2 separate regions of the Homo sapiens genome follow, and region 2 is linked to region 1. Evidence: fine-mapped QTL for protein levels in blood plasma. A gene starts in region 1. The other region holds a variant in brackets. All regions are shown on one strand. Distances are from middle to middle.

Region 1 (16,876 bases):
GGTGGGGCAGAGGGGACAGGAGAGGCATCTTGAGTTTTGTTTTTCCTGACCCTGACAGGGAACAGCAGGGTCATTTATCCTGGATATTTGCAGACCTTCACAGTTCTAACGCAAACATGAAGATTTTATGAGCAAACCAAGTTCCATATAATGCAGCTCTATATTCCTAAACCAATAGAGTGTGTTTAGGTTGGTCGCACACACGCGCGCATGCACACGTGCACACACACACACGCATTGGATATATTTAAGTTTTTCATTAAATTTCCACCAAAAAAGAATAATACTCTTTTCTCTGGGTACACAATGTCTGAATATAACATCCTTTCTAGTTGGAAGCAAAGACTGACCAACTTACCACAGAAGGTTTCCTGGAATCTAGAGGAAAGTTTCTCAATGACCCCATAGGTCTCCACGTAGAAAACATGCTCCTCTAGGGGCTCACTGGCCATCATCTTGAGGGACGCCATGTCTGCCCGGTCCACGCCCACAGCATAGAGCTCAATACCAGATGCTTGGGCCCGAGCCGCCACCTCATTCACCTGGTCCTGGGGCCTCCCATCTGTAACAATGATGGCCACCTTAGGGATGTTAGAAGAGGGCTCTCGAGCCCCTGCCTCCACTGTGAAGGCTTCGTCCATTGCTGTCTGGATGGCTAGGCCTGACATGGTGCCTGTTGACAAGGGTGTGATTCGACCCACGGCCTGCTTCAGGGACTGCTTATCTGTGTAGGCCTGGAGTTGGAACTCGATCTTCACAGTGCTAGCATAGTTCACCACTGCCACCCGCGTGTCGGCTGGCCCAATGTCCAGAGTGTCGATTATCCGGGAGACAAAAGTTTTCACTTTGGTGAATTCCAGGGGCCGTACGCTACGAGAACTATCAATGATAAACACCAGGTCCAAGGGTCTGCTCTTGCAAACACCTGCAAAAGACCAAGCAATGATCAGACCACAATTAGAAATGCAGTAATCCTCACTTCCAGAGAACTCTGGGATTCCAGGAGGCCAGGCAAGGCAGCATCTCCTGACCCCAACATCACCACTGCCTGCGACCTTCCCCAAGACCATCGGGGTGTTGAAAGCACCAAGGACTTCAGAATTCCCTAGTGAGAATTCACCTGGAGGTGTGAAGTTTCCCCAAATACCTCACCTGCAGGCTGGCTGAATCCTGAAATTTCACTTAGAACCTCATCCCTCTGCTTAAGCTTTTGCTCCCAAGGGCCCTCATGATTCCTGGGAATTAATAGATTCTACACATTTCTTAAGTACCTTGGCTATCTGGAGCAATTGGACAATGTGTCCCTGAACCATGTAAAAGGCCTTGGGCCCTCAGGGACAGCCTCACTGCCAACCACTGTGCCCAAGCCTCAGGCAATGGTAGTCTGAGGCAAGGCACTCAGGGGCTCTTCTGGTGGCCCCCCTCTTTTACTCCACTTCCAAGGGGCTGAAAACTGCTCCAGAGTATCCCTGAATTCTCCCTCCATCTGGCCATCTTTCCTGTTTAGTGAATTTGGGGGCTCACTGGAGCCCTGAACTAATTTAAAGTAGAGCCAGGCGTGGTGGCTCATGCCTGTAATCCCAGCACTTTGGGAGGCCAAGGCGGGCAAATCAAGAGGTCAGGAGATCAAGACCATCACGGTGAAACCCCGTCTCTACTAAAAATACAAAAAATTAGCCGGGCGTGGTAGTGGGTGCCTGTATTCCCAGCTACTCGGGAGACTGAGGCAGGAGAATGGCGTGAACCTGGGAGACAGAGCTTGCAGTGAGCTGAGATTACGCCACTGCACTCCAGCCTGGGCAACAGAGCGAGACTCCGTCTCAAAAAACAAAACAAAAAAAAAAGTAAGTAGAAAGAGGGGCCCGGGCGCGGTGGCTCACGCCTGGTAATCCCAACACTGTGGGAGGCCGAGGCGGGAGGATCACCTGAGGTCAGGAGTTTGAGACCAGCCTGGCCAACTTGGTGAAACCCTGTCTCTACTAAAAATACAAAAATTAGCGGGTCGTAGTGGCATGTGCCTGTAATCCCAGCTACTCGGGAGGCTGAGGCAGGAGAATCGCTTAAACCCGGGAGGTGGAGGTTGCAGTGAGCTGAGATCCTGCCATTGCACTCCAGCCTGGGCAATAAGAGCAAGACATCATCTCAAAAAAAAAGTAGAATGAGGGATGCCAACTTAATCTTGTATCTGTTTAGTGAGCTTCCAGCTTCATGAGCATGTCTCGTAAGAAGCAGGGATTGTGATCTGGTATCTACCCTACTGCCCCAACTAACTCTCTTGGTCATCTCTCTTTTGACTTATTCATTCACCAAAAACATTTTTTGAGGGCCTACATGTATGAAGCCCTGGAGCTACAAAAGCATATAAACCAGATAGCCAGATTTCCCACCTTCAAAGAATTTATCTCTTTTCTACACAAAAGTACCTAACAGTTTAGTATCACAGTACATTTTAGTGTTCATCTATTCTTTCCTGTTCTTTCCTGTTTCCCCCAACCCCTGTTTGCACACCCTCTCTCCTCGATACAAAAATCAAATCCACAAGTCAGGATGAGACAAGAAAAAAAGCCAATTATTAAACTTCTTTTTCTTTTTTTTGAGACGGAGTCTCATTCTGTCACCCAGGCTGGAGTGCGGTGGTGCAATCTTGGCTCACTGCAACCACCACCTCCTGGGTTCAAGCAGTTCTCCTGCCTCAGCCTCCTGAGTAGCTGGGACTACAGGTGTGCGCCACCACACCCAGCTAATTTTTGTATTTTTCATAGAGACGGGGTTTCACTATGTTGGCCAGGCTGGGCTCAAACTCCCAACCTCAGGTGATCCTCCCACCTTGGCCTCCCAGAGTGCTGGGATTATAGGTGTGAGCCACTGTGCCCAGCCCTAAACTTCTTTTTCAAGTCATTCCCCCTTCTCACCCAACACACGCATGCAGCCCTAAATGGAAATGAGGTCCTGGGGCATGAAGTGTCACTCAAGGCTCTTTCCTTTCCTAATAAGGAGGCAGAAGTTGATGCTACTCTAGGAAGGTAATACTTAGTAGGAAAAAAAGGTGATTCAAAATTAATGCCTAGACTAAGCAGTTTATAGAAAAAAATTAAAGCCTTACCTGGAACAGCCTACCTTATGTCTCTGTCTAGTTTTCTTTTAAAAGCAGAAAATTATCTTCTTGTTTTTAGCCTGCTGCTTGGAGGTATTTAATTAACAAAAAGAAAATCTTCCTTTCAGTAACACTTTAGGAATCGCAAGGTACCAACACATCAACCTGTGAGGCTGGAGGTGCAGAGGTGGTTTTTATATTCATTTTACAGGTGAGAAACCTGAGGTTCAAGGAGGTGTGAGAACTAGAAAGTGGTAGAGCATGGATTGGACTCCAGGTTTCCTGACTCCCAGTCCCTGGGAGCTTGCTACTGAATCCCAGTTACCTCTCTCTGAGGCAACATTTTCCTCCACAAAAATCAACATTCTCTCATGTATTCAGTAAACATCCTGCTTGTTGACTTTAAGTCACCGCCCTGAAATATGCTGTATGTCATGCATTTAGTTAAGTCAAAAGGAATTAAACCCAGGCGCAGTGGCTCACGCCTGTAATCCCAACACTTCGAGAGGCTGAGGGAGAAGGATCACTTGAGCTCCGGAGTTCTAGACCAGCCTGGGCAACATAGGGAGACCTCATCTCTATAAAAAGTTTAAAAATTAGCCAGGCATGGTGGCAGGCACCTGTAGTCCCAGCTGCTTAGGGGGCTGAGGCAGGAGGATCGCTTAAAGCTAGAGAGTCAAGGCTGCAGTGAGCCACAATCACACCACTGCACTCCAGCCTGGATGATAGAATGAGACCCAGTCTCTAAAAGCCAAAAAAAAAAAAAAGGAATCAAAATTCTTTCTTTCTTTAAAAAAAAAAAAAACAACTCCAGCAGCCATAAAAAAGAATGAGTCCATGTCCTTTGCAGGGACATGGATGAAGCTGGAAGCCGTCATTCTCAGCAAACTGACACAGGAACAGAAAACCAGACACCACATGTTCTCACTCATAAGTGGGAGTTGAACAATGAGAACTCATGGACATAGGGAGGGGAACATCACACACCAGCGCCTGTCAGGGGGTGGGGGGCAAGAGGAGGGAGAGCATTAGGACAAATACCTAATCTATGTGGGGCTTAAAACCTAGATGATGGGTTGATGGGTGCAGCAAACCACCAGCGCACATGTATCCCTATGTAACAAACCTGCACATTCTGCACATGTATCCCAGAACTTAAAGTAAAATAATAATAATTTTTTAAAAAGATCTGAATAGGAAACATTTGTCATCTATTGTCTCTAAGGGTAGCCACTATAAGACTTCAAAAGAACATTGGTCTTTACAGTCTTTTATCTTAACCTGAACATTTCCTTTCTATGGATCCCAGGTCTTTAGGCAAATGCAACCAATTATCAACCAGAAAATATTTAAACTTACCTATAGCCTGGAAGCCCCTCACCACCACCGGCTTTGAGTTGTCCCACCTTTTAGGACCAAACCAATGTATTTCTTAAATGTATTTGATTGATGTCTCATACCTCCTTAAATTGTATAAAAACAAGCTGCACCCTGACCATCTTGAGCACATGTACTCAGGACCTCTTGAGGGCTGTGTCACAGACCATGGTCACTCATGTTTGTCTCAGAATAAATCTCTTCAAATACTAAAAAAAAAAAAAAAAAAAAAAACCTCCAGAATTTTACTTCATTCCTGGAAAGTCCCATAGATCTAGAGCTAGGAAGAAGAATTATGTTGAAAATCTTTCCTGGAGATGGGTCAAAGTATTTTTGTATAATTAGAAAAAGAAAAGGTGGGGGTAACATGAAGATATGAACTCTGTAATTGACAGTGCTTTCACCAGCACCCAAATGGTGTCCTTATAAATATCATGGCTATGTTCTTATAACTAAACGTGCATGATTCTTTCCTTCTCCACTTGGTTATTCACACCGAATCCTCTATTCGGGGTGTGGTATGCAGAATAATGTCCCCCGCCAAAGACGTCCACGTCCTAATTCCAGAGACATGTTACTTTTACGTGGCAAAGAGCAGAGACTTTGCAGGTGTGATTAAGTCAAAGAGCTCTACACAAGAGGTTATCCTGGATTATTCAGTGAGTCAATGTAATTATAAAGTAGAAGAGGGAGGCAGATGAAAGAAATGTGAGTAACTCAATGGGAGAAGGCCTCAACCTGCTTTAGCTGGCTCTGAAAATGGAAGAAAAAGGCCATAAGCCAAGGAACTCAGCAGCCTTCATGCGGTGGAAAGGGAAGGGAAATGCAGTCTCCCCTAGAGCCTCCCAAAAGGAACACAGCCCTGCCGACACCTTCATCTTAGCCCAGTGAGACCAGGGTCAGACTTCTGACCCACAGAACTCTCAGGTAATAAATGTGTGTTGTCTTAAGGCACTAAATTCACAGTAATTTGTTACAGTGGCCATAGAAAACTAATACCTGAGGCTTGACCATGGTGGCAGAAAATTCTGTGAACATCTGGTTCCTTCCTGACTGGTACTCCGCATCAATCATTAGTTGTTTTTGAATCTCACTCCCATTTACTAAATAGCAGCAATTTGATTCCCAAGAACAAAGAAAGAATCTGAATCTCCTAAAATGTTCCCATACTCATAATACCACTGAGTCCTTACAGTCCTGCTAGAAATAAAAATCCATAGCGAAGCTTAGCAATTTCTGGTTGCTAAAAGGAGATAATTTGGAACAGGGTGGAATCTCGCATTTATTAATGGGTTATCATTCATGATCAGGTTCGGACTCTAGGTAATGAAAGACCAGTAAAGCTTAGGGGGACATGGCCACCTGGTGCTGAATCTCTCCTTCCTCTTCCAGTCCCATCCCAGAGGGAGGCAGGTCAGGACTAGAGTAAGATTAACTTCCAGAAGAAAGGCTTTCCCTCAATTCCCGGCCTGGAGCAACCAGCCACCAGCTGAATCTAGCCCTGTGGACCCCGGTACCTCCTGCCTTAGCAGCAATGCTTTTGCCATTTCAAATCTGCCACTTCAAATACGGGGACTGAGTATTTGAGTCAGGAAAGAGTCCCTTGAGCTCCTTCTCAGCTTATCCAGAAAGATGCAGAAGGGGATAGACAATTGAAATCAGCCTGAGGCATGCAGCGTGGCTGGCCAAATGAGACTGCATACCCAGAAATGGCCTGGCACAGACTCTTTTTAGCAAGACTGAAGCTGCGCTTTTTGGAAATGAAGATACAATCTTATGTAAACCATATTAAGAGGTTGGTAGGCTGGGGCAGTGGAAAGAGACCTTGCTTGGGATTTCGGAGCCCTGAATTTTATTGTGGCCTCTGATACTGATTCACAGAGTCCCTTCAACTTGATATGCCTCAGTTTCCCTTCATGTGCTGTCAGGGGCTGTGTCAGACGACCTGCCCGCTTCGCTGCACTATGAGCTTTGCTCTGCTTCAGGAATCAATTGCTGACCAAAAAGAGAAATAGAATTGTTCGCCAAAGACCCAGAGTGTCTTGATCCTGGGGTATCCTACGGCTCCTCGGATCTCCTCCTGGTCTCACACCCGCATCCCTTACCTTCCAGTCTGAGGCAGCCTGAGGACTGTGGGAGGGGAGGAAAGATCACGCCCTGATATTGGATGGAGATGGAGAGATTCCAAGAGAACTAACAGCAGAGTCTCAGGAAGGGTTTGCTCACTGAATGGAGAGGTCAGGACTGGGACGGAGCTTAGCAGCAGCCGCTGGGCAGCAGCCCCTGCGCTCCCCAGCTGCCCTGTGCTCCTGGCCGAATCACAGGGGAGTGAGAGCTTCAGGAGACCCACATCTCTAGCCTGGACACATGAGTGATATTGGGCATCTCCCTCCCCTTCTCTGGACCTCAGTTTCCCCCACAGGATTCATCCGGGAGGGGCCTCTTTCCCCCGCACCACGGTCGGCCTGAGGCCGGGATGAAGCGCGCTTGGTGGATGCCCTGGGCTTCTCCTCGTTCGATGCTCACGCGTCCCTCCCGCCGCCCGCCTGTACCTGCACCGCGGGCGCGGCCAGGCTCGCTGGTCCCGGAAGCGGGCGCGCCGTCGGGAGCCGCAGGAGAGGGGCGGCGTCCAGGGCTGCCCCCGGGACCTCGGGTCTCCAGCCTCCGGAAGCCCGGGCGGGCCACGGGGTCGGGGGCGGCGGAGGGCAGCAGCAGCAGCGGCCAGAGCAGCAGGAGGAGTCCCGGGAGGCGGCGCGCGGGGGCCGGGCGCGGCATGGTGGGCTCCGTGGGCCTGGTGGTGTCCGTCGGGGGCCAGGAGCCCACGCGAGGCTCGGATTTAAAGGTCCCGCGGCCTCGGGCCCCGCCCCGCCCCGGGGCCTCGAGCGCCAGGCCGGCCCGGCGAACCCCGCCCAAGGCCAACAAGGAGCCTTGTCCGCGCATTCCAGCGGCAGAAACGGAATGTCTGGGCGAGGCGGCCAGCGGCGCGGTGGTCACCTCCCGCCCCTGCCCTAAGCCCCGAGCCGGCTGCAACTGGGTGGGCTCGGCTGCTGTCGCAACCTCCGTCCTCCCAGTAACACCGGGGCAGGGGGGGCAGCCATCCGCGGCTGCAGCCTGCCCGGCCCTCCACTCTCCCTCCCACCCCAGCGGGGCCTGCGCCCCAGGTACGGGATGGGGACCCCTGGGCTCTGCTTTCCCTTCTGCCACTGGTTTGCCCGACTGGGGCTGAAGATGAAACCCTGCTCCTAGCTCTACATTCCTTTCCTCAGCCAAGTAACCCAAGTTTTGCTGTGGGCTCTTGTTTAAAAAAAAAAAAAGAAAGAAAAGGCCTCACAGATTCTAGGGGCATGAATAGAAACGCTTTCATCCGAGCTTCAAATATCCACAAACATTTGAACTTATATTACCGGGAATAGAAAGTCAAACATACATTCCCCAGAGAGCCCCGTTAGCTGGAAGGACAGCCTGTACCAACACAGGCTTCAAAGGCTCTCCCGAGGCCCCATTTCCTCTCCGGAAGAGTTAGCATGGTACAGGGCTGGAGGCTGCCAGGGGACCCCCATGGAACTCACTGTCTGTGAGAAGGAGATTTGCATAAATGTGGTGTCTGTCTACGGGAATGTGGTGGATTTAGGAAAGAGATACTGACTGCCTGCGGAGACCAGGAAGACTTCTAAAACCAGGTGACATTTGAGCTGCGTCTTAAAACAATGGGCGCGAGTTCCAACAGAGCCTATCTGGTCGTCCTATTTCACTATTTTCCCTCTACAAGTGATCCTCCTCACACGATCCTAAACCTCACTTCTCATATTTGTACCCCATGCTGGTAGCAGCATTATACACAATAGCCAAGAGGCGGAAACAACCCAAGTGTCTCTCTTTGTGTGAATGGAAAAGCAAAATGCAGTATCTACGTACAATGGAATACTGTTCAGCCTTAAAAGGGAGGAAATTTTGGCAGATGCTACAAAATGGATGAACCTTGAGAGTATTATGTTAAGTGAAATAAGCTAGTCACAAAAAGACAAATACTGTATGATTCCATTTACATGGGGAATCTAGAGTAGTCAAATTCATAGAGACAGAAAGAATGGTGGTTAACAGGAGCTGAGGGGAAGTGGGGATGGGGAGTTGTATAATGTATCAATGACATTGGGCAGTGATAGTCACACTGAGGGAAAAGGTCACTCAACTCCCACTGAGAACTCACCAATTTAGAAGGACCTTAGAAGAAACGAGAAGTTTGTAATAATGGGAAGAGGACACTAAGAAGTTTGAAAGAAACTATGCCAAGAAGAGGAGGGATTGATAAATACAGTATTTGCAAGCTCTGGTGGACATTTGTCTTTCGTCTTGCTTTTAGAATGATCCCCAAAGCCTTTGAACCCTACATTAGTCAGGGTTCTTGAGAGAAACAAAACCAATAAATTTTATATACACATACATATAGAGAGAGGGTGGGGGGAGTAATTGAGATTATGAGGGATTGGTTCATGCGATTATGAAGGCTGAGAAGTCCCACAGTCTGCTGTCTGCAAGCTGGGGGCCCAGGAAAGCCAGTGGTGTAATCCAGTCCAAGCCTGAAGGCCCAAGAGCAGGAGAGCCAATGACATAAGGCCCAATCTGAGTCCAGAGACCCAAGAACCAGGAATGCTGATGTCCAAGGACAGGAGAAGCTGGTTGGCCCAGCTCCAGCAGAGAACACATTTGCCTTCCACTGTCTTTTTGCTCCATTCAAGCCCTCAACAGATTGGATGATGCCCACTCCACTCACATAGATGAAGGTGATCTTCTTTGCTCAGTCTACCGATTCAAATGCTAATCTCTTCCAGAAACATCCTCACAGACACACCCAGAAATAATATTTAATAGCTATCTGGGCATCCATTAGCCCAGTCAAGATGACACATTAAAATTCACCATCACAAATACCTTCCTAAATTTAGGGATTTCCAACTTCATGAGTCAGCACCTCCCCAAGTTGACTCCAAGAACTTGCTTCCCCAGCATCTCTTGCAGCTAGGATGTACATAAGTGGCCCAGTCTTCATCGATCATATGTGGTGTCTATGCCAAGCAGCAGTGACTCTAGGTCTCCCATATAGCAAACCTGCAGTATAATTTTGGGAATGGTTGATGACTGTGTGGCTTCCAAGCTTGATTCTTGAACCTTTCCAGAAATTATTTGAACCACTTAATATCCAGGGCTACATATGGATGGTGTAGGTGTACATTGCACAAGTTCACAGGGGCACTATTCACATTCGTAGTCAACACATATTGATTATAACATTTGGAATTCCACTTCAACTGGGGAGTGATGTTTCTTGAGGAATGGTTGGCTTTTCCATTTGTACTTTGAGCTAGTAGTGGGACAAATAATACCCTTAATATATACTTTTTCTGTTTCTTTATTATTATTATTATAAACAGGGTCTCATTCTGTCACCCAGGCTGGAGTGCAATGGTGTCATCAGAGCTCACTGCAACCTCAACTTTCTGGGCTCAAGCAATCCTCCAGGTTCAAGCAATCCTCCTGCCTCAGCCTCCCGAGTTGCTGGGACCACAGGTGTGCACCACCACGCCCAACTAATTTTTTTTTATTCTTTATAGAGACAGGGTCTAATTATGTTGCCCAGGCTGATCTTGAACTCCTGGGCTCAAGTGATCCTCCCACCTCAGCTTGCCAAAGTGCTAGGATTATACATGTGAGCCACCATGCTTAGCCTCTTTTTCAGCTCATTCTAGCAGGAATGGGTTCTGTTTGCACCAACAATGTGGATATATTAATCTTGTGATTTTTTTTTTCTATTGCATACCACTGGGGGGCACTGTTTTAAAGAGCTCAAAATAAAAATCTCAGCTCCCTGGTGAATGTCCCTACACATTCGTTGTCAGTATCTCAGACAATTTCAGATGCTGGTGTATGAAAGTCATGCCATCTTGAATGAAATAGAAATTGTCTGATAAGTTTGTATCTCCAGAGTTCACACTCCAGGGCGGTTGTCTTACATCTGATGTCCAAAGATTGTCAAATAAAACAAAGGTAGCTCTTCTGACAGAGGAATTCAGGTGGCTGTAGGGCCTTCTTGCATGTCACCAACTCAACTGGCTGCTGGACCAGGTGGTAACTTTGCTTTCAGGTGTTTACTTGGGAATATTGCAAAAGCTATATTTCTCTACCACTGCATATTATCTTATACTACTTTGTCAAGATAAAGACTAGAATAACTTTTTGATAACCTAAAGACTTAGGTCATAAAAAAGCCAAACAGAGGTTTTTTGAACTATTCAAAAATCTAAGAAATACAACAAAGATTTATATATACACTTTACATTGTTTTTAGAATTTTATTATTTTTAAAGTAGGTAATACATGCACTTGGTCTAAACTTTGAAAAGAAAAAAGAAACCGACCAAATGTTAGGATTACTTTCAACTTTGCATTACTTCTTACAAGCAATAAATTCAACATCTTGGGAGAATTATTTTTCTCACAACTAGGATTTCAGCAGTAGAATAAGACTTGCAAGCTACTTAAGGAACCACTTGTCTCCTGCTTTGCTGCCCTTAATGTGTGGATTTTGTTCCCAAGGCTGCTGGAACTCCAAGTATCATGTTGGCATTCCAGGATGAAGGAAGAGGGAAGACCAAAGGCCAAAGAGCAAAGGACCAAAAGATATTTGCTGCTGACATCTCATGGCCACACCTGGCCACAAGGGGGTCTTGAAAGGTAAGTTCTTAGCTTTTTTGATCCACAGTGAAGAAGGCAAAGGAAAACATGCATTGGAATGGGAGTTGACAGCTAACCTGTGGCATATACTACAGGTATATGGTGAAAAGGAACTATCCCAACCACCCTTGCCAATAACACCACTGTTGCCAATGTCTTGAATGTGCATAGACTTGTAGGTGTAAACATTGAAAAATACGTGTGCAGACATCCACTGTTCTATTGAAAGAAGACATATGTTTCCAACTTTAGACCAAAAAATCTACCCCCAAACAAGTTGAAAAGTCCTTTGATTCCATGGATGCATTGGAGAAAATGTTGTCAAAAGATGTCCCAAGACTTCTTAAATCTGATAAATGACAGACCATGTACTTGGAGAAAAAAATTTGTTTTCTTTTGTGTTCAAAACTGTCTCAATCCCAAGGTGGAAGTCTTTTCCAGAAAGTATAGAACTCTTTACCTATGTTTTTTGCAATTTACCCACCTGAAAAAAACAAGTAATTATGAAAAATGAATATGTTCAATAGCCTACAAGTTGTATTGCCATCTCTGTTTTTTAATTGCCACAGGGATTAAGATAGTACAAATTACGGATTGGTACTACCCATTAATATTTATTTTATTAAATAAATATTTCTAGACTGGATGTGGTAGCTCATGCCTGTAATCCCAGCACTTTGGGAGGTGGGAGGAGCGCTTGAGCCCAGGAGTTCAAGACCAGCCTGGGCAACATAGTGAGACTCCATCTTTATGAAAAATTTTTTAAAAATTAGCCAGGTGTGGTGGCACACACCTATGGTCCCAACTACTCGGGAGACTGAGGTAGGAGGACTGCTTCAGCTCAGGCCATTGAGGCTACAGTAAGCCATGATCGTAGCACTGCACTCCAGCCTGGGCGACAGAGTGAGACCCTGTCTCAATCAATCAATCAGTCAATATTTCTGTGAATAAGCAGAAAACATGGAAACTAAATCTAAACTCTTGTGTTTTAAGGCCTGTGCCTATTTTTAATACCAAATTCTTAGCTATATGAGAGTAGCTTGCAAATGAGATGAGGTTGAAGGCAAAGTTTGGCTTGCTCTAAAAAAGAAAAAAAAACACTATTTCTGAAACACAGGAAGCACATTTCATTATTGCCAGTAAGTTCTGAAGAGGGCTGTTAATGACCTACTATTATTAACTAACATTTACAACTTAAGACATATTTCTATTCAAAATAGTAGAATCAATATTTGAAAAGAGCAACTCATAACACTTTTGCTTCCTTTAATAAAAGATTGGTTTTAATTTTTATTGTTTCATTTTAGAAGTACAAGCATGAGCATTAAGTTTCACTAGTAAATAAAAAAACAATTATCAAGTCAGCCAGTTCACTGTAATGTCTTCCCCAGAGTTGATTCTCTGAAGCCATATTGTAAATTAGGTTTTTCAAATTTGTTTTTACCACAATTCACTATAACAACACATTTTATATTATGAGCCAGTTACTGCACAAATATATAATACATATATACAACAGAAATAAGTTTTTTTTTTTTTTTGAGACGGAGTCTTGCTCTGTTGCCCAGGCTGGAGTACAGTGGTGCGATCTCTGCTCACTGCAAGCTCCGCCTCCCGGGTTCACACCATTCTCCTGCCTAAGCCTCCTGAGTAGTTGGGACTACAGGTGCCTGCCACTATGCCTGGCTAATTTTTTTTTTTTTTTTTTGTATTTTTAGTAGAGATGGAGTTTCACCGTGTTAGCCAGGATGGTCTCGATCTCCTGACCTCGTGATCCGCCCGCCTCGGCCTTCCGAAGTGCTGGGATTACAGGCGTGAGCCACCGTGCCTGGCCCAGAAATGAGTTTTATAAAGCAATATTGACAACACATGTGATGCACTCCAATGATTCCTATTTTATTCAACTCCATTCATTTCTATTTCATTTTCTTAAAAATCTGGCTATAAACATCTAAATAGAATTCATGATTCACTAATGTTTGAAAACGTCTGTATTAAATAGATTTTCTTCTGCTGCCTCTGCCCTTTCAATCTATTACAAGTGTCTGGTTTGTTGCTTCAGTGGGCCTTACTCACTTTGTAATTATTTAATATGTATTAAATGCATTCATTCCATCAGACTCCACTAGAGCATAGGCTCCAAGAGGGCAGAGGCAATGCTTGCATTGTTTGCTACTAAATTCCCAGAAATTCTACCTTACCACATGCAGGTTCACAACCTCTGTTAGGACTGAGACTTCAGGAAATGGGAGATCATGGAACAGAGCTGATATTCAGCCTTTCCTTGGCAGAGTAGTCAACAGGCATGATAGATTGTTTGTAGGAAGAGAAACAGCCTGGCACTGCTTTTTCCAGGAATTGAGTGGTGGCGAGTGCTCTGTTTCACTTCACTGACAACAGACTGCCCTGTGCTGGGCATTGGCTCCACAGACCATCTCTTCCTTGGCCTTCTCTAGCAGTGGAGTGAGATCCTCCTCCAACACCAGGCTCCTTCTAGGGAAGAAGTTTGGGGGAGACGCAGCCTAAAGTGTAATGTCTGTTTCAGCACATTAGCATGTGAGCATCTGTGGAAATTAAAACTATTTAACCAAGGCTAGAAAGTAAATTAAGAGTTGCTTTTCTTTAAAAAAATCACTTTAATATTGCTATAATTTTTTTACAATTCTAAAAAACTATTTATTAGTCAACTTTGGCTAGGTTATGCTATGGTAACCAATGGCCCCACACTCATGTTCTTATAACAAAGGACGTTTATTTCTTGCTGTGTTATGTGTCCTTCATAGGTTGGCTGCAGCTCTCCTCCATGTCTTCTTCATTCTGGCACCCAGACATAGGAGCAGGCCCAATCTGGAATGTGCTGGTCTTGAGGCAAAGGAAGGAAAAAAGATGGTAGAATCATGCACCTGCAAGAAGGTGGCAAATCAATTTCATTCACGTTATTGGCTGGAGCAAGCCACGTGGCCAAGCCTGATGGCAGCAGTTGGGAAATATTAATATCAACTTTTTGCTGGAAAAATGGCAAATATTTGGAAACTACAACAGGATCTAGCACAATTTATTTAGACATTGCTTATGATGGGGATAGATGGGGGCCCTCAGAGGGCCCTTCTCTTAGAAGATTCAACAAGAACCCTTCATCTCTCATTCCAGGTTGGCTTCTCCTCAAGAGGCCACTCACGTTGGCTGATCTAATCCTAACCACTTTCTAACAGCTTTTCATCTTCATAAGTAGATAGCCTTGGTGGAGCAATTTCTTTGTTCTTGTTGCTTGGTGTCCTGCGAGTAGGGAAACTGCTAGCTCTCAGCTCAGGCCAAATGGGAAGCATGGTTGGAATCCGCTTCCAACAAGTTGTCACTCCCAAGAGTCATGCCCTTTCTTGACTTCGGGTTGTGCAGAGCCTGGCTCTAAAATCTCCCAGGACACATGCAAGGCCATGGATCCCAAGATATATTTTTTCCACATCCTAGACTTACTGATTTATGACAAAACATGCAGTTGTGCTATTTACAGAAACCTCCAATGGAAGCCTTTTCATATCTCTCAGAGGTTCAGTCTTTTCCAGCTCTGGGTGCAAATCAAACAAAGGGGAAGGAGGCCTGTAGTCCCCATGCCCTGATGCAGTGGGCCTGCAACTGGACTGTCAGAATCACCCGGGAGGCCTTATCAAAGACAGATTCCTGGGCCCCCACCCTATATGGGCTGAATCAGATGGTTGGGTTCTGGGCCCAGGAATTTCCAGTTTCTGGAGGTGTATTAGTCTGTTCTCATGCTGCTAATAAAGACATACCTGAGACTGGGTAATTTATAAAGAAAAGAGGTTCAATGGACTCACAGTTCTACATGACTGGGGAGCCCTCACAATCATGGCAGAAGGCAAAGGAGAAGCACAGGCACATCTTACATGGTGGCAGGCAAGAAAGCTTGTGCAGGGGAACTCCCGTTTATAAAACCATCAGCTCTCATGAGACTTATTCACCACCACAAGAACAGTGTGGGGGAAACCACCCCCATGACTCAATTATCTCTGCCTGGCACCAACCTTGACACATGGGGATTATTACAATTCAAGGTAAGATTTGGGTGGGGACACAGCCAAATCATATCATTCTGCCTCAGCCCCTCCCAAATCTCATGTACTCACATTTCAAAACCAATCATGCCTTCCCAACAGTCCCCTAAAGCTTTAACTCATTTCAGCATTAACTCAAAAGTCCACAGTTCCAAAGTCTCATCTGAGAGAAGGGAAGTCCCTTCAGCCTATGAGACTGCAAGATCAAAAGCAACTTAGTTACTTCCAAGGTACAAGGGTGATACAGGCAATGAGTAAATACACCTGTGCCAAATGGGAGAAATTGACAAAAACGAAAGGGCTAGAGGCCCCGTGCAAGTCCAAAATCCTGGGGAGGGGTAGTCATATCTTAAAGCTCGAAAATGATCTCCTTTGACTCTGTGTCTCACATTCCAGGTCAAACTCATGCAAGAAGTAGATTCCCATGGCCTTGAGCAGCTCTGCTGCTGTGGCTTTGCAGGGTACAGCCCCCCTCTTGGTTGCTCTCACAGGCTGGCACTGAGTGTCTGCAGTTTTTCCAGGTGCATAGTGCAAGCTGTCAGTGGATCTACCATTCTGGGGTCTGAAGGATGGTGCCACTCTTCTCACAGCTCCAGTAGGCAGTGCCCATTGGGACTCTGTGTGGGGGCTCCTACCCCACATTTCCCTTCTGCACTGCCCTAATAGGAATTTTCCATGAGGGCTCTGCCCCTGCAGCAAACTTTTGTCTGGACATCCAGGCCTTTCCATATATTTTCTGAAATCTAGGAGGAGGTTCCCAAGCCTCAATTCTTGATTTCTGTGCACCTGCAGGCTCAACACCACGTGGAAGCCAACAAGGCTTCGGGCTTGCACCCTCTGAAGCAATGGCCTGAGCTCTTTGTTGGCCCCTTTTAGCCACAGGTGGGATGCAGAGCACCAAGTACCCAGACTGCACAAAGCAGCAAGTCCCTGGGCTGGGCCCACAAAAACATTTTTTCCTCCTAGGCTTCTGGGCCTGTGGTGGGAGGGGCTGCCATGAAGACCTCTGACATGCCCTGGATATATTTTCCCCATTGTCTTGGCGGTTAGCATTTGGCTCCTCATCACTTATGCAAATTTATTCAGCAGCTTGAATTTCTGCTCAGGAAATGGGTTTTTCTTTTGTATTGCATCATCAGGCTGCAAATTTTCTGAACTTTTATGCTCTGCTTCCCTTTTAAATATAAGTTCCTATTCCAAACCATATCTTTGTGCATACATAAAACAAAATACTCTTAGCAGCACCCAGGTCACCTCTTGAACACTTTGCCACTTAGAAATTTCTTCCATCAGATGCCCTAAATCATCTCTCTCAAGTTAAAAATTCCAAAAATCTCTAGGACAGGGGCAAAATGCCACCAGTCTCCTTGCTAAAACATAGCAAGAGTCACTTTTGCTACAGTTCCCAATAAGTTCCTCATCTCCATCTGAGACCACCTCAGCCTGGACTTTATTGTCCATATCACTATCAGCATTTTTTTCAAAGCCATTCAACAAGTCTCTAGGAAGTTCCAAACTTTCCCACATTTTTTTGTCTTCTTCTGAGCCCTCCAAACTGTTCCAACCTCTGCCTGTTACCGAGTTCCAAAGTCACTTCCACATTTTT
Region 2 (12,763 bases), 38 kb before region 1:
ACTCCTTTGAGTGTACCATCTGTTTCTGGCTAAGACTCATGGAGTAATTTTACTAACTATATATAGTATTCTAGAAAAGTTTACTAGTTCTAAAATCTTCACACAAAAAGGCTTCCTTTCTGCTAGCTCCTAAAACAAGACAGCTTTGAATATACTTTGAGCTATAGCAAAATTATTTAGTAAGAAACACTGTTTATTTTACAACTGCTCTTAATATTTACCTTATAATTAGGTCGAATGTTTGCAAAATATATAAAGGAATCAACAGCTAGTGCAATTTTCAGTCCACCTCCTTCCCAAGATAGTGCAGATATTTCCTTTCCAGGAACTTTCAAAGTACCCAGATGCTGAAAAAGAAAGTTATCTTTAACCTAAAGTATAACAATTAACTGAAATACAAATTACCACCAATCACTTCACAGAGATCAAAAGTGGTATGAACATTATTTTGTGAAAAGTTACTAGTCACTTTAAAATCATGTTTCTTGAATTTTTTTTTTTTTTTTTGAGACGGAATTTCTCACTCTCACCCAGGCTGGAGTGCAGTGGCGTGATCTCGGCTCACTGCAAGCTCCGCCTCCCAGGTTCACGCCATTCTCCTGCCTCAGCCTCCTGAGTAGCTGGGACTACAGGCGCCCGCCACCACGCCAAGCTAATTTTTTGTATTTTTAGTAGAGACAGGGTTTCACTGTGTTAGCCAGGATGGTCTCGATCTCCTGACTTCATGATCTGCCTGCCTCGGCCTCCCAAACTGCTGGGATTACAGGCGTGAGCCACCGCACCCAGCCACGTTTCTTGAATTTTTATAATGAAAAACATGCATATAAGAAAAATTTACAAACTATATCCAAAGAATTCAATAGCAAATTTCATCAAATCTAAAATGCCATAGACTGAAACATGAATTTTTATGTACAACTAAGGAAAGGAAAAAACACATTGCTAATTAAAATATGGCAACTTTGATTATAAGATGCCTCCTCATTTTAAAGTTGTAAAAAATTATATTTCTTAGAATCAATGAAATATTTTATTAGCAAATTCAATCATAAAGTCTTGTCTTTCTCTTTCATCCCCTCACAACCAACGAGTCACCAAGTCCTACTGCTTTTACTCCTTTCCACTCTCTACAATTACCTTTTTAATGGACTGCATTGTGGTAATAGCTTCCTAACTTTATATCTTACTTTTCATCTGTTTCCTTATTCTCCCCCTCTGCCCTCCCAATTCAATCTATACTCTGCTGTCACAATTATCTTTCTGGAACACAGATCTAATCATAACCTACCCTGCTTTTTAAAAGGTTTAATAACTTTTAAAAATCAGTAAATCCCCACCATCACATTCTTTAGCATGGCATACAATGCCTTTTTCCCATCTTGTCCAAAATCATATTATGTGGCTTAATATCCCACTATTTAGCCATAACTGCTGTGTGCCTGCTCGTGAAGGAACTACTCTGCCTCCACAGCTTTGGCCTATACAATATCCCTTCTGCCTGAAATCCCCCTCTTCTTTCCTCACAGCTCCCCTATCCTTACTGGTCCTTGTCCTCCTGGAGCACGCCTATTCATCCATCAAGATACAGCTCAAATACTGCTTCCTCAACGAGTCCTGCCTTCTTCCCCCATTCTATGGTTCCAGAGAATTACAGAATGAGCTCCTTAAGAGTACTAACTGTATCATATTCACATTTCTTTCCCTTTCCATTAATAGATTATTTGATAAACTGATAGTCAATATATATCTTCAATAAATATACATTCAAATTTTTTTAATTTAAAATTTAAAATAAATAAACAGTACTTTTTATGACCAAATTAACGAGTGAATAAATGAATACAAACACTTTTTTAATGTGGCTATAAGGCAATCGAACATTTTTAATCTATATCTTTTATTTGACAGAATGATAGAATCCCCAAAATTTCAATGAACTTTACTGGTATCCCTTGTTCTAAGCAGATACCCTCTAGGGTCAAATTTAATGTTACTATAGTTTGAATGTCTGTCCCCTCCAAAACTCACATTGAAATGTAATTGCCATTTTGACAGTATTAAGAGATGAGACCTTTAAGCAGTGATCAGGGCATGAGGGCCCTCATGGCTGGGACTACTGCCATTATACAAAGGGGAATTAGGTCCCCTCTTGTCTCTCTGTTGCACTCTCTTTGCCCTTCTTCCTTCCACCATGAAATTATGCAGCAGAAAAGCCCTCACCAGATGTCAGTAGCTCAATACTGGACTTCTCATTCTCCAGAACTGTGAGCCAATAAGTTTCTGTTAATATATACTATGCAGTCTGTGGTATTCTGTCATAGCAGCACATAATAGAGTAAGACAAATGTATTGAGCTCCATTTTCCCAAGGAAACCAATGGAAGAAAAAAACTCAAAGTTTTAACCTAGGAGGGTCTGATCTATCTGTCTTGCTACCTGTATGAAATTAAAGGTGAACCAGCAAGCCCTCTACAGTACTCTTGGTATTGACCCATCCATAAGAGGAGGAGAATACGACCATCTTCTAACTGCAAACCAGCCAGGATGTGGCAGCAGCAAGGAAAGAAAACCACCTTTTAGTAAGCCCTCATTACATGCCAGGCACTGTGTAGGCATTTCCTCATTGTAATCTCCTTTAATCTTTACAACAGCACCATGACGTATTTCCTTTATTTCTGAAAATAACTAAACTGTGTCTCAGAGGCTAAATAACTTCTCTACGTCAAACTACACTGTGGAAAATGAATTCAATACCAGATCAACTTGACTACAAACCCTATGCTCTGTTATCTCCTACCATGGCTAAGACCACAGTGCAAAACCCAGGAGCCCCTGGCCCTCAGAATTTAAAAGCAAATTCTTCTCTGAGGTTTTCTTAAGTTTAAATCATTAAGTTTAAATTGTTAGATAACTTCCATCCAGGTTATCTTTCCTACCTTAACAATAACACAGATCCAAATAATTCCCCATATATTCACTCACTCAGAAAATACTGACTACTATGACCTGAGGAACTATGCTAGATACTTTTAGTTACAGCTAAACCAAACCCCACTTACAGTTTTCCGTTTAACACTTAACACATTGTTTTGCAAGACAAACAAACAGACTTTAGAACCCATGTTTTTCTACCTGGGGAAGGCTGAACTAACAAAAATAAGCAGATAAAACATTATGATAAATAAGTAAATGGCAACCAACAAAAATAACCAATAAAGAACAAGAATTAAGAAGGAGGCTATAAATATAGAAATAATTAGAATGCAGATTTTTAATTATTTAGGAACCTTGAAAACTATGCTTTTTTTTTTCCTTCACTTTTACATCTACGAGAAATATTGTCGTTTGACAATGTATAGAGAGCATCTACGTTCTACAGTATATTCTACTGGGTAACTTTGAGATACTGATTCAAAAGCATCAGAAGACATCATTTCTTGCCCTAAAAGAAATTATTAAAATATATAAAAATAACATTAAAACAACTGGTATAGGCTTTTATGCAGCCAAAAATATATATCACTGTAGTCTATGGCGAATTTATAAAAGCCAACAGGGTATTCAAAAGGGACAAAATATAGTACTGGGTTAGAAAATAAGACATTCAAAAAACGTATTAAGCTTAGTTATTAATAAGCTCTCACTTTCTAAATTCTTTAAAATTCACAATATATTAATTCTCCTACTTGACATTTTCCAATGCTACTTCTGAAAATTCTTTTAAAATTAAATTTATTAAAAATACTATTGAGAAGGATAATACTCATATGTACATTTATGAAAACAATGCTTTTATTTTAATGTAGCATCACCTAAGATTAATTATTAAATTTTCTTCAAATAACTGATTACTTTGCAACAAATTAAAAGTATTAGAAGTTTGAAGGAAGGACAGACAGATATGTATGTTTAACATCTAAACACATTTAAAATATCACATTAAAAATCAGAAAAATTAATCTGAAACAACTATATTATACTAAATACTACTCAAAAGCTGGCTATGAAAAGAGACACATATTCAGATCACAGAGAAAATATTCAAAATAACTACTCCATGGTGATTTCTTATGTTAAACTTCTGGTTTTCTGAATGTATAAAATTGTAATTTTTATTTTATAATTATAAAACTATAAGATTATAAAATTCCATGATAAAATACAACAAAGATTTATACTATGAAGATGAAATGTCCCTAAAAGAAAATGTGATAAGTTTACACCGTTTCCTTTGTTATTTTTTCCTCTACCTTACTCACTGCACATTTAAATAGAAAGAAAGAAGATCAATTTGAATGCATTTACCTCACCAAACGGAGTGTAAAACTGCACAATGTTCACATCTTTGTCCTGCATGGCTGCCTTCTGGAAGCCTGCCACAGCTAACACGCTGCCCATGTGGTTCCACTGGATGCCTACTACGTACATGCCAGTGTCAATCAAAACGGGATCTAGTCAGAAAGAGAAAAATGAGGTCACTGTGGGAAAATACGTAGCCTAGAGAACTTTATAATCTTAAGAACAACTTTTAAACATTTTTAAAACTTTCCACATTTTTAAAAAAACAGGGCTGGGTACAACGGCTCACGCCTATAATCCCAACACTTTAGGAGGCTGAGGCGGGCGGATCACTTGAGTCCAGGAGTTCAAGATCGGCCTGGGCAACATGGTGAAACCCTGTCTCTACGAAAAATACAAAAATTAGCTGGAGGAGTTGGTGCACACCTGTGGTCCCAGCTCCTCAGGAGGCTGAGACCTTGAGCCTGGGAGGCCAAGGCTGCAGTGAGCCAAGAACGCACCACTGCACTCCAGCCTCGGCAACAGAGCAAGACCCTGTCGCAAAAAAAAAAAAGTTAAAAATTAGAAATTGAGGCCGGGCACAGTGGCTCACGCCTGTAATCCCAGCACTTTGGGAGGCTGAGGCAGGTGGATCACGAGGTCAGGAGATAGAGACTATCCTGGCTAACAGGGTGAAACCCCGTCTCTACGAAAAATATAAAAAATTAGCCAGGCATAGTGGCACGCCCTGTAGTCCCAGCTACTCGGGAGGCTGAGGCAGGAAATTCGCTTGAACCCGGGAGGCAGAAGTTGCCGTGAGCCAAGATCGTGCCACTGCACTCCAGCCTGGGCGACAGAGTGAGACTCCATCTCAAAAAGAAAAAAAAAAAAATAGAAATTAAAAAAATTTTTTAAACAGAAAAATTCCTTACTTTGGTCATTCTCATGTCTCATTATTTGGCATCTTCCATTATCAAAGCAAACAGCAAGGCAAGGGCAATCAGGCTCCACGTAGCCTTCTGTGCCATGGTACCAATGAATTCCAGCAATGCTGATAGCTCCAGTGACATTCACCAAACAACTCAGTTTCATTTTTATCTAAATAAAATTGGTTAGGTTTAATATTTTACATTTTAAAACACAGCAGTATAGAGACAATACTCAATAGAGTATTGTAGAAAGAACACTGAAAAATACAGTCTAAAAATCAGGTGGCAAATTAAAGCTTAATCACTTACTGGTATACAGGCCATGGACAAATCACCTAAATGTCCATTTTCCCCACATGTAAAAAATGAGGATTAAAAAACACTGAGTTTTTATGAGACTCAAACAACAAGTATATAAAAGTACTTTGAAAACAGCAAAATGACATAAAAGTTCATTATTTTACTTCCACCAGTGAGTGGATTTACTTAATGTCCTAACCCTTGCTAAAAAACAAAACTGCCCCACCAGTAATCATACATCTATGATAGCTAAACCTTGCAAAGCCAGAATTTTTCTCCAGATTATGCTGCCTGATCCTATTCTATTTTACCTTCTTTCCAGGGATTGATTTTTCTCACTTACCATTTAAGTCTGTCATTCTTTTTACAAACAACCATTGGTAGCTTGCTACAAAAATACCCTGTGGTATCTACATGTAAACTTTGGCTTCAGACACCAGAAGACACCTATAAAACTTAAACTGCACATCGCCCTACTCATTATCTCTCTGCTTAAATGCACTGACACCTCGTCCTTTCTACCTACCAAAAAAAATTGGAACTAAAAGCTACACTCGAACTTGTTGCACTAATTTGCCTTGAGAAAACCAAAATTTTATTTAATTAAAACAAAATTTAGACGATTGGGAAAAAGAAAAAAAATCTGAATTGAAGACTTTAATTACACAAACCGCCATAAAAAATAAATGTATATACAAACATGAATGATATGTACGATAATCATATAAAATTGTATAAACAAGACTGATGCATACACTTACTTACCATAAAATTTCCTTGATTATCGTAAATGTGTATTTCCCCATTTGCCATTCCAAAAAGTAAGACTTTACTGTCCGCAGACCATGTTACATGGGATAGCTGTATACCCTTCAGGTCTTTTCCCCAAATACGATTGCCTAAAACAAAACATTATTAAAAGTTGTTCAAGGTCATGATCCTCCAACAACGGCTTTCGAAATCTTTGTTTTTCTAAAGATCTCACAAATTCTTCACAGCATTCATGCATTCATTCAATTTATTTGGCCAATAAATATTTACTGAGCACCTATATGTGCCTGAAAAGACATCTGAAATAGCAGCTGTTTCAACCTTTCTCCCCTTTCTTCTAAACTCTGATGCTGGATCTCACTCCCAATTAGCAGTTGAGCCCATCTTCTATTTTGGAAAGAAAATAAAAGCACCCAAAAAACAAATTCCTCATTCCCATCTTCAACAATTCAGAACATAACTGAGTCCATGCTTACACTTTCTGCGTTGCCCACTAATACAAAAGAAGAGGTATTTCCCCAGTCAGTCCCCTATCCAAGGCTAATTCCTCTATGTATTCTCTGATCTAATCCCTTCCTACCTTTGCAAAGATCTCCCTTTATCGACTACTCTCATTTTCTCTTTCTCATTAAACTCTTCACTCCAGGGCCTTTCTTATGTGGATTTAAACACATGCAGATCTATTTCTCTTTGAAACCATCACCCTAAATAAAATAAACACTTTTATTAACCCCAAGTTCCCCCTCTAACTACTATTTCTACCATTCCTTTCCCAACCAAACTTCATGAAAGAGTTCTTCACACCTATAGTCTCCACTTCAACTGCCACTCAACCCTTAACCCCTCCCAATCTGGCTTCTGCCCCACAACTCCATTGAAACTGCCTACAACATACACTATTTGGGTTATGGTTATATACTAATAGTCCAGACCTCACCAATATTCAATATATCCATATAACAAACCTGCACTTGTACCCTCTAAATCTATAAAAATAATAAATAAAAAAAGAAGAAACCAAACCTGTTGACATCTTGATCTTGGACTTCTAGAGTCTAGAACTCTGAGAAAATAAATTTCTGTTGTTTAAAAAAAAGAAAGAAACTGCCTTCATGGACGTCACTGATGGCCTGTTGCTAAAGCCAATTGATACTTTTTTTTTTTTTTTTTTACCACTCCCTCCTTCTTGAACTCTCTTGGCTGCCATTAGCCCATATACTCCTTTATCTCTAAGACTCTTATATTTCTCGACATCCTTCTTCTGCCTATCCCTTAAATGTTGCTGATTTTTTTTTTTTTCCTGAGACAGGGTCTCACTCTTTTGCCCAGGCTAGAGTGTAGTGGTAAGATGATGGCTCACTGCAGCCTCAACCTCTCAGGCTCAAGCAATCCTCCCACTTTGGCCTCCCAGGTGATTGGGACTACAGGAGTATGCCACCACGCCCAGATAATTTGTTTTGTTTTTTTTTTATTTTTAGCACAGACAAGGTCTTGCTATGTTGTCCAGGCTGGTCTCAAACTCCTGAGCTCAAGCAATCCTCCCGCCTTGGCTTCCCAAAGTGCTGGGACTGCAGGCATAAGCCACTGTCCCCAGCCTAAATGTTGCTGATTCTTAACTCTACAAATGCCTCTTAGTTTTGTTCAACTATTTCAATGGTTTAAATTACCATGCATATGCTGGTGGTTCCCAAAATTTTGTGTTCAGCACAGACATTTTTGAGCTGCAGATATGTATGTCTAACTATGGTCTGGATAGATTTACTTGAATGGCCTATGGCATGACAAAATCAACATATCCAACAGAGGAATTTTCCCTTAAAATCAATCTTTCTCCACACTATTTTAATGAAAGGCATTACCATCCATCCAGCTGCCCAAGCTAAAACTCTGGATACTGCCCTGGGGACTTCCATCCTCTCATCCCCAATCCTATCTATTCTGCCTCCTGAGTATGTATAAAATCTACTTACTTCCATTCCCTTGTCATTACCTGGATGGCTACCATCCACCATAATCTCTCACCTGAATTGCCAGAGCAGTTTCCTGATACAGCTGCCCATTATCTTTCCTTCCTTTCTCTATTCTTCATATGTAGCACAGAGATGTTTCTAAAGAACAATCTTATCACATTGCTCCCATTCTTAAAACTTTTCA[T/C]TGGCCTCCCAAGTGCTGTTGGACTTAAGTCCAAACACCTTAATATAACTTATGATCTGCATGATCTGGCCTCTGTTTCTCTCTCTAGATTCACTGCATACTACTCTTCACTGTTAGTATTATACCCTACTGATAATCAACTTTTTTCAATGGCCCAAACATAGCTAAGTGCAACTCCTCTGGACCTCCTCAAATACTACTTCTTAGGGCAGAGACATTCTACACACCAACCTACCTTGTGGCTAATGCCTCAGCATCAGCATCACTTCCTCCAGGAAGCCTTTCCTGATCCCTCCAAGTCTGCATTAGGTGGCACTTCTACATGCTCCTGTATTTTCCCCATCTTAGCGCTTATCACAGGATACTGTAATTTCTCAGTTACTCATCCATCTCTCCTGATCTAGGTCTGGTCATTGCTGTACCCTTAGTTCCTAAAATGATAGCTGTTGCTTTATAGGCTCTCAGAAACATTTGTTGACTACATGAAGTTACACACACACACACAGACACACACACACACACACACACACAGAGCGAGCGAGAGAGAGAAATAAAAATGATTTTAAAATAAATTATTTATCTACAGAGTTTCAAATTAAAACAAAGGTGCAGACTCTCAGAAGACCCAGTTTTATCTATTACTAGAATTTGAAAAATACAGGTTTTTAAGGCTATAAACTACAACCAACAATGACATATTCAGTTCCAATAAAAACGACCACAGACTTTTTGAAACTAAAGTCTATATATTTGTACAGACTAACCAATATAAAAAGAAATTACATAATGAGGCAGACATGTTTAAAATAATGCTGAAAAGTTAATTCAATTTTTTCAATGCCACTGTAGGAAATAAAAAAATTTCCTTGAATATACATAAAAACAGATGGTTAAAATCAAAGAACGGTTCTTGAATGTCGTCAAATTGTATATCAAATAGTTTCCCTTTTATGTCTATTTTTCAATCAGAATGCTAACATATGGTAACTAACTTAAATCTCTAAAGAAGAAAACTGTCAGCCAGATATTGATCTTAGTTCTATGTCCAATCAATACATTACCATCCACTGAACCAACTATCACAGCCCCATCTTCATATACAATGCAGATCTTCTGTCCGTCAGCATTCCAGCTCATACTGCGAACAACTGATTTATTTCGATTGTTGATCATCTCCTCAATCCAAGAGCCTGTTTTCACAAATTTAAAAAATTACAAGTCAAAACTTTCACATCTATTAAATAGTAGTTAAGAATTGAAAGCATTCCATAAAGTACGCCATGGGACAAATAACTGCAAAGTTTTCTACAACCTGAGACATTAAACTATAAAACTTCCAAATCCAACAAAAACAAAATGAAAAATTAACTTGGGCTTAACTGATAACTGCTTCAAAGATTATCACAGAAAACATAATAAATGCCCATCCTTTGTTTCTTCTTTCTTTCTTTCCCTCTCTCTTTCTTTCTGTCAATTAAAAATTAAACTTCATTTGCTTTTTCAGAGCTAAAACTACTGATTTTTCTGAAAGCCTAACTTTTCCCACTTGAACAATATGGTTCAGATCATAACCAATTAAAAAAACTCCAAGTAACAATAACTTTATACATATGCACATAAACTCTCCAATGAATAATTACAAGCATATTAAATGCAGCATATTAGTTACCATCACAAAGAGAATGAAGGCAAAAAAATACACAGCATATTAGGTAAAACCCTAAGCCTGCTTGAAAAAATTCTAATCAGTTTATACTACATTAGTGACACGACATCTCTAATGCCGAATGACAAAAATATTCTAGTTGTATGCAGGGTAGGAATGAGATGTAACTTGTCTTTTAGCATAACCAAACTAGAAGCAAAAAAATAGGCTATTTTGTTTTTGCTTTTCTCAAAGGCTTTTTGACATACCAACATGGGCAACTCTGGCCTGCAGCCAAGCAAATAATCATGTAATTTGGAATAACTGCCCAGAGCAGGATAACAGAATCGAGACTGAGACCCAGAGAAGACCTGAAGACCTACCTTGGAAACAGACAAAGTTTACTCCAGTCCACTGAACTTTCACATTCTATCCCCTACACACACACACACACACACACACACACACACACTTTTTAAAAAATTAAAGTATTATAGCATATCTTTAATGAAGACTTTTTAAATGGTATGCCCTGCCATTTAAAACAGCACACATGAACTTTTCAAAACAGCACACATGAACTAAGGCACCCTTCCCTTTTGAAGATGATAACTACAGGCCTCAGGAGAACATGTATTATGAGCTGCTTTTCTGGTAAAAGTGGATTATCTAAGTTAATCCTTCTTTTACTCACCCTCTCTCATAGACAAACTGTGAACCAGTAGTCAGAGTTGAGATAAAATCTGTATCCATAAAAGAAAAGGAAACTAACTGGCCCATGCAGGAAGTGAATTATTCCCTTTGACTTCTTACTAAATGTGTTTTTATCTACTGAGATAACTCTAGCCACTCATTTATTCATTCATTCAACAAATATTTATTGAACATGTACACTGTGCTATGTATTATAAAAGGTTCTACGTATAAAATGAACAAACAGTCATTTCCCCTTTCCCCTCAGAGCTTACAGTCTACTGAGGAACCAATATTAAATACACACTCACACACACATGAATGTAATTATAAACTGGAACTACCTAGAAGTAATTCTTATTGGAAATCTGGAAAAAAAAAAAGACTTATCTCAAGTAGAAGCTATTCTTCTGCTAAGAGTCTAAGTTCATTTTGGAGATGGCCAACAGTCACCTAATTCACTTTCTTAATAACAGGGTTAAAGTTTTAAAAAAGTGAAAAGTAGGCAGCAATAAATCCAGAAATATTATCACTGTGCAGTCAGGATGAACTCCTGTTGTTAGTAAAAGGGGTCTATTTTGGAGATGTTATTTACCCATCCAAATACTGTGATCCAGATGCCAACTTGTGAAAAATTAAATAATCTCTCCTAGTAAAGTATACCTTTATATAACATCCACACAATGATAAGCCCGTTTTCATCACTGGTAGTCAACTTCTGATACTGCTCATTCCATGTTACAACTTGAACAGAACCTAGAACATTATAAAACAATTTAGAAACTTAAAGGTTACAATTAATTTCAAATTCACATTTTTATATAAACACCAAGATCATGTTAAAATCAATATGGTTCCTGTACAGCTAACTAGTCTTTAATATTCCTCAAAACCTATTCATAAGATGCAGTTATTGATATCACTAATTTTCTACAACAATGCATAATACTATTTTTCATATCTATCCCTATTTCATCCCAGTAAAGACACCAATCATGGCTAGCTACCAGAACTACCATATACCTGATGACAGAAACAAATACAAGCATGGTTTACTCAATTGGCCTGACTCCCAAAAATAATGATGTTCAAAGGACACCATAACAAGTACTTGTTTAGGGGACTTTTATCATTTTTGGTAGATATGTCCTATAATCTCTCTTCTGCCCACCTCTCACTCGTTTTCCATTCTATTAGTAAAACACTCTTGAGCATATCTTAAACCTCTAGGGTACGTGAATAATTGATGACTTTTAATTTTTTAATCCCTAAATACTTTAGTGTACATTTCCTAAAAATAAAGACATTCTCTTCCATAATCATATTACAAATTAGGAAGTTTAACACTGATATACTATTATCTAACTCACAGTCCATATACAAATTTTACCAATTGTCCAAATAATGTCCTTTATAGACACTTGTTCTTCTCATTCCAAGATCCAATCTAGGATTATACAGTGCATTTAGTTGTTATACATCTTCAGTCTTTAGTCTTTTTTTTTCTTGAGACAGGATCTTGCACTGTCACCAAGGCTGGAATGCAGTGGCACAATCATGGCTCACTGCAGCCTCCAACTCATGAGCTCAAGCGATCCTCCCACCTCAGCCTCCTGAGTACTGGGGACTACGGGCACACAGCACCACGCCTGGTTAATTTTTTTTATTTTTTGTAGAAACAGGGTCTCATTATGTTGCCCAGGGTGGTTCCAAAATCCCAGCCTCATGCAGTCTTCCCACCTTGGCCTCCCAAAGTGCTTGAACTATAGGTGTTAGCCACTACACCCAGTCTCTTCAGTCTCCTTTAATCTGGAATCATAGGACAGATTCTAAAAAGGATTATATATACAACATCCATAGACAGGAGTATTTTCAATATATTAAAAACAGCTATTTTCTTCTAGATTTATTTAAGATGTTGTTTAATCATGTAAAAGTTGAATGACTCTAAGTTGTATTACTTATGTCTCAACAGAAATGATTACAAACAGCTC

Which allele goes with the higher level. Positions count from the first base shown, and alleles are read on the strand shown. Strength reflects both the effect of a copy and how common the allele is.
For the plasma level of the protein whose gene starts at base 7,283 in region 1, allele C in region 2 goes with a lower level than allele T (weak association).

What was found. PIP is the posterior inclusion probability: the model's chance that the variant is causal. Protein levels are from antibody-based Olink assays in UK Biobank. Linkage for the fine-mapping came from a reference panel and not from the study's own genotypes, which makes the PIPs less certain.
Region 2: its variant is fine-mapped to the plasma level of the MATN3 protein (UK Biobank, PIP above 0.99).

The regions. Positions count from the first base shown.
Region 1 is chr2:20,005,386-20,022,261 of GRCh38, forward strand. MATN3 (matrilin 3) reads right to left here and starts at 7,283. Exons shown (of 8, transcript NM_002381.5): 1 at 7,024-7,283; 2 at 359-925. The coding sequence starts at 7,246. RefSeq lists an enhancer at 6,387-6,999.
Region 2 is chr2:19,969,259-19,982,021 of GRCh38, forward strand. WDR35 (WD repeat domain 35) reads right to left here. Exons shown (of 27, transcript NM_020779.4): 4 at 11,433-11,525; 5 at 9,493-9,621; 6 at 6,272-6,405; 7 at 5,210-5,375; 8 at 4,305-4,450; 9 at 222-347. Among named protein-coding and RNA genes, the nearest start is that of WDR35, 14 kb to the right of the region's middle. The variant T/C (reference allele first, on the strand shown) is at 8,432.